2 separate regions of the Homo sapiens genome follow, and region 2 is linked to region 1. The links come from fine-mapping of genetic effects on gene expression. A gene starts in region 1. The other region holds a variant in brackets. All regions are shown on one strand. Distances are from middle to middle.

Region 1 (2,908 bases):
AAGGATGTCGGAGAAAATGATGGCAGCATCCAGAGGGAAGCGACGCAGTGGCTGTAGGAAACAGGAGACAGGTTGCTAGGTGGCAGACTGAAGGCATAAATCTTTCCCTCTTTTGTGGACCCCTCACCTGCAGAGTCAGTTCACAGCAGGCCTCAGGAGAGCGACACGTGCTGAAAAAGTCCTGGGCAGCCCGGGTTTCCCTAAACTCTGCATACAGAGGGAAGACAGGGCTCAGCCTTGAGGCCCTCCAGAGCCCTCCCCTGCCCCTCGAAAACTTTTCTCCCTCCGGAGTTTTATCTAGATTTCCAGACCCTGACTCTTACCTGGTAAGTAACGGCCTGCCTGGCGCATGCACCAAACGGGAGTGTAGTCTGTTTCCTCTCCCCAGGCTGCTCGCAGGAATGTGTCATTCTTCAGCTCCGGAAAACCCTGAGGTCTGGCGATCAGGTGGGGGTGGGGGTAGGTGTCAGTATGCTACGCTGGAGGCTGGGGAAAGCGCGGGTTCATAAGGCCGATTCAGTCCAGGACCGCTATCTACCTCCTCCAGGCCAGCTCCCAAACCCTGGCTTTCCGCCCGTTCCGCCTCCTCTCTGCCTATCAGGTGGTGCACAAACTCCAGAAGGGCCCGCCCTGGGGCCTCTTCCCTCCACTTAGTCTCTACTCTTCCAAGCTCGAAGCAACCAGAGGGACTGGGGGGAGGGAATGAAGGCCCACTAAGGATAGTTTGGGGGTCTTCGAACTAGTGAGCCTCAGAAACGGGAATGTCACTGGGCTGGTTCAGGGGCTGAGAAATACCCAGGCTGGGGGATAAAGAGGGATCAGAGTTGATGGTCCCAGAATAGAGATCCTGGTTGGAAATCCTGAGGCATCCCTTGAATTAAGGCCCTGGGATGAACATCTCAAAAATCCATGGTTTTAGGATTCAGGATCCCAGCTAACGGAGTTCAGGTTGGGAGGTCTCCAGGGTGGGGAAAGGGGAGTAGAGGGATAGAGTCCTGAGTTGGAAGACTCAAATTAGAAGCCCGGCTAGCCACACCGCGTGCTCTGGAGAACTCACCCCAACCCATTCGCTTCCATGGTCAGCTGTCTGTAACTGCGAGCTCAATCCACAATTTAACCTGAATCTGAGCCTGCCCCCCAGTCCAGGCTCCGCCCCTTTCTGTAGGGAACCAAGAGCGTCGCCATGTTGAAGATCACATGATCGGACTCCAGCGACAGCTCCAGGGCTGCCCTGGCTGCTGCCCGTAGGACCCCTACCTTTTTTCACCGTAAAGTTTGCTGTAGCGACGCAACAACAAAGGCCCAAAAGAAAACTCCGCTGTAAATGTATCTTACGGTGACATGAGGAATTTGTTCTCATCTGACAGTCTGGGTATCCGGAGGCTTGGCGCAAGTCCCACTCATGATACCAACAGTCTTATCCAGCCAGGTCCATACTATAGCCTGGACCTATAGTAGGTGCAGAGGTTAGCTCTGCTCAAGACAGCCCCAGCCTTTAAGGAGCTACAAGACTGGGGAAACAGAAATCAGCAATCACATTAAAATGAATAATGATCTCCAGTGTCCTTGGGATTAGGAGTGACAAACAGAATCAACCCTAATGACTCAAGACTCCTGTCAGTGGCAGGGGAAGGGGCCATTGTCTCAAACACTTTAATCACACCACCCATAGGATAGGGAGTCCAGCAGATTCGCTGGGAGTGGGAGGAAAAACAGCAGGCCGAAGAACCAGAAAAATGACTGTTGGCAATGACCCAGGCTAGCTAGAATGGTGACTTGAATGAGGGTAGTAGCAGTAGAGATAAAATGGTAGTCACAAGGAAATGGAGAGAGGGAGATTGATCAGGTAGCAATCACCAATCTTGGGTTTGGTCGGCTGGGTTAGGGTGGCACAGAGATAAGTAATATGGTTGAGTGTGGGAGTACACAGTCCAATACAGTGAGAGCTGGGGTGCGCTTAGTCCAGAACATACGGCAAAGGCTGGCCAAAGGCGGGGAAGGGCGTGGTGGGAAGCTCTGTCCGCGGTCGCGCCAGCTGTTCCCCGGGCAGGGTCGCCTCTAGGTGCTCACCTCCGCCACTTCGCCATGGCGGGTCCTGGCCCGGGCGCGGTGCTGGAGTCCCCCCGGCAGCTGCTGGGCCGCGTGCGCTTCTTGGCAGAGGCAGCGCGGAGCCTCCGCGCCGGGCGGCCGCTGCCAGCAGCGCTGGCTTTCGTGCCGCGAGAGGTGCTCTACAAGCTTTACAAGGACCCAGCGGGACCGTCGCGCGTGCTTCTGCCGGTGTGGGAGGCAGAGGGCCTGGGGCTGCGTGTGGGCGCCGCAGGCCCAGCCCCCGGTACCGGCTCCGGGCCCCTCCGCGCCGCCCGCGACAGCATTGAGCTCCGGCGCGGCGCCTGCGTGCGCACCACGGGCGAGGAGCTGTGCAATGGCCACGGGCTCTGGGTGAAGCTGACAAAGGTGCGCTCTTCCCTGCCCAGGACCCGGTAAAAGACCCCTGGGGCCAGAGAAACCTCTGGCTGTTTGCCTTTTCTCCCCTGTATTGAGTTGGCATTGCGTTCGGCGCCCTTTGCCCTGGGCTGGGCACGACAGGCGGCTGGGCAGTTCCCTGACGGCTGTCCCCATCCTACGCGTCCCGGCAGGAGCAGCTGGCAGAGCACCTGGGCGACTGCGGGCTGCAGGAAGGCTGGCTGCTGGTGTGCCGCCCGGCGGAGGGCGGAGCCCGCCTGGTACCCATCGACACTCCCAACCACCTCCAGCGGCAGCAGCAGCTCTTTGGCGTGGATTATCGGCCGGTGCTCAGGTACTGCACTTGAAGGAGCGGGGCTGGCTGTCAGAAGGCCGGGCCAGGAGGGCTTGGGAACACTTCAGCCACAGCCTGGGGTGGGTGGGATACTGGAGCGGAGGCAGGGTT
Region 2 (2,908 bases), 270 kb before region 1:
GGGCCAAGTGACGGTGCTGGGGATTGTGTGGGGTGTTCCAGGCAGAGGGAACAGTGTATGGAGAGGCACAGAGGATGGGCAGATGGTGATGGTAAAGGAATGATTTTCTCTATGTAATAGTGGGAAGGAAAAATGTTGCTCTTCAGAAAGATAATTCCTGGCTTATTATCACTTCCAGGGAAGGGACAACATTCGCAGCACGGATAGGTGGTTCTTTTTTGTTTGTTTTTTCGCTCTTGTTGCCGAGGCTGGAGTGCAATGGCATGATCTCACTCACTGCAACCTCCACCTCCAGGGTTCAAGCTATTCTCGTGCCTCCGCCTCCCGAGTAGCTGGGATTACAGGCATGCGCCACCACGCCCAGATAATTTTGTATTTTTAGTAGAGATGGAGTTTCACCATGTTGGTCAGGCTGGTCTTGAACTCCTGACCTCAAGTGATCCACCCACCTCAGCCTCCCAAAGTGCTGGGATTACAGGCGTGAGCCACCGCGCCTGGCCAGGTGGTTCTTTTTATTGAGGAAACAGCCAGTGATTCTTGGGAGGGGTAAGGAAGGGAGGGGGAGGTATGAGATAAAGAGAGCAGAATTGCTCTGCTCAAGAAAGGAAGAAGTGAGAGGAATTTGGAGTTTGGGGCAGCCTGGGGGAATAGGCCTGAGAAAGTTGGAGAGAGGGGGTCAGTGAGGAGAATAAATGAGAAGATGGGAAGGTCCAAGGAAGAACCTTAGGTCAAATAGAGAAGTCATCATGAGCTGGAGAACAGGAGAAGCAGAGATAAGGGGAACACGAGATTTTTCCAAGGAATATACAAAACACAAAGTTTTTTAGCACAGACTTCCACATTGTGTGGGACAGGGCTTGAGTAATTTTTTTTTTTTTTTTTTGACACTGTGTCTTGCTTTGTAACACAAGCAGGAGTGCAGTAGCATGATCATGGCTCACTGCAGTCTCAAACTCCTGGGCTCAAGTGATCCTCCTACTTCAGCCTCCAGAGTAGCTGGGACCACAGACACCCACCACCATGCCCAGCTAATTTTGTATTTGTTTTTTTGTGGAGACAGAGTCTCATTATGTTGCCCAGTCTGGTTTTGAATTCTTGGCCTCCAGTGATCCTCCCACTTCAGCTTCCCAAAGTGCTGGGATTACAGGTGTAAGCCATCACTTCTGGCCTGAATTTTTAAAAATTTTTATTTATTTATTTTATTTTTTATTTTTTTTGAGGCGGAGTCTCACTCTGTCACCCAGGCTGGGATGCAGTGGCGTGATCTCGGCTCACTGCAACCTCTGCCTCCTGGGTTCAGCAATTCTCCTGTCTCAACCTCCCAAGTAGCTGGGACTACAGGTGCGCACCACCACACCTGGCTAACTTTTGTATTTTTAGTAGAGATGGAATTTTGCCCCATTAGCCAGGCTGGTCTTGAACTCCTAACCTCAGGTGATCCATCCTCCTTGGCCTCCCAAAGTGCTGGGATTACAGGCGTGAGCCACCGTACCCAGCCATTTATTTATATTTTCATGGACAGAGTCTTGCTCTGTTGTAAGCTACTTAAGAGACAGGGGTGGGAGGATAGCTTGAGCCTGGGAAGCGGAGGTTGCAGTGAGCCAAGATGGTGCCACTGCACTCCAGAGTGAAGACAGGGGAGACTCTGTCTCAAAAAACAACAAAAAAAAAAAAAAAAA[AG/G]AAAAAAGAAAAGGAAGAAAGAAAATCCCTAGATATAATGGCTGTGCCACTTTGAGTCTGCAGTGAGCTACGATTGTGCCACTACACCTAGGCTGGAATGCAGCGGCACAATCATAGCTCACTGCAGCCTCAAATTTCTCACCTCAAGAGGTTCTCCCCTCTTGGCCTTCCAAAGTGCTATGATTACAGGAATGAGCCACTGTACCCGGCCCCTATATTAGTTTTAAAATGCATTTTTCTATTTAAAAATGTCATTGGGATTTTGATAAGGATTGCATTGAATCTGTAGATTGCTTTGGGTAGTACAGAAAATTTAACAATATTAAGTCTTCCAATACGTGAACACGTGATGTGTTTCCATTTATAACTTCTTTAATTTCTTTCAGCAATGTTTTGCTGTTTTCATTGTATAAATCTTTCACTCCTTTGGTTAACTTAGTTCCTAAGCATTGTAAACGGAATTGTTTCCAGTTTCCTTTTCAGATTATTCACTGTCAGTGTATAGAAATGCAAGTGCTTTTGCATATTGACTGTATATCCTGCTACTTTGTTGATTCATTTATTAGTTCTAACAGTTTTTTGTGAAATCTTTAGGGTTTTCTACATATAAAATCACATTATTTGCAAACAGATGATTTTACTCCTCTTGTCCAATTTGGATGCGTTTTCTTTTTCTTGCCTAATTGCTCTGGCTAGAACTTCCACCATTATGCTGAAAAGAAGTGGTGAAACAGACATGGTGAAAGTGGGCATCCCTTCCTGCTGCAGATCTGGAAAAAAAAAAAAGTGGGAATCTTGTCTTGTTCCTGATCTTAGAGGAAAAGCTTTCAGTCTTTTTCCACTGAGTATGCTATTTCCTGTGGGTTTTTCATATATGGTTTTAATTATGTTGATGTAGTTTTCCTTCATTCTTAGTTTTTCAAGTGCTTTTTATCGTGAAAGGGTATCAAATTTTGTCTGTTGTTTTCTCTGCATCAATTGAGCAGATCATGTATTTTACTTCCCTTCATTCTGTTAGTGTGGTATATAACATTTTTCAATTTTCATATGTTCAACCATCCTAGCATTCCAGGAATAAATTCCATTTGTTTCTGTTACATAATCCCTTTAATATGTGGCTGAATTTGGTTCACTGGTATTTTGTTGAGAATTTCTGTGTCAATATTCATAAGGGATATTGGTCTGTGGTGTTTTTTTTTTGTGATGTCTTTATCTAATTTTGGTATCT

Which allele goes with the higher level. Alleles are on the strand shown, and positions count from the first base shown. SD is a standard deviation of normalised expression in the study named.
As copies of AG replace G in region 2, the expression in monocytes after LPS of the gene that starts at base 1,089 in region 1 goes up (moderate effect, 0.75 SD a copy in Quach 2016).

The links. PIP is the estimated chance that this variant, and not a neighbour inherited with it, causes the effect.
Region 2: its variant is fine-mapped to the expression of UROD in monocytes after LPS (Quach 2016, PIP 0.95). The same link has a PIP of 0.9 or more in monocytes after R848.

What each region holds. Positions count from the first base shown.
Region 1 is chr1:45,010,435-45,013,342 of GRCh38, reverse strand. It overlaps UROD (uroporphyrinogen decarboxylase), which reads right to left and starts at 1,089. Exons shown (of 10, transcript NM_000374.5): 1 at 1,058-1,089; 2 at 324-436; 3 at 128-207; 4 at 1-51. The coding sequence starts at 1,077. It overlaps HECTD3 (HECT domain E3 ubiquitin protein ligase 3), which reads left to right and starts at 2,019. Exons shown (of 21, transcript NM_024602.6): 1 at 2,019-2,454; 2 at 2,637-2,797. The coding sequence starts at 2,086. RefSeq lists enhancers at 993-1,122, 1,163-1,212 and silencers at 1,973-2,102, 2,183-2,352.
Region 2 is chr1:45,279,238-45,282,145 of GRCh38, reverse strand. No RefSeq gene overlaps it. Among named protein-coding and RNA genes, the nearest start is that of LINC01144, 23 kb to the left of the region's middle. The variant AG/G (reference allele first, on the strand shown) is at 1,680.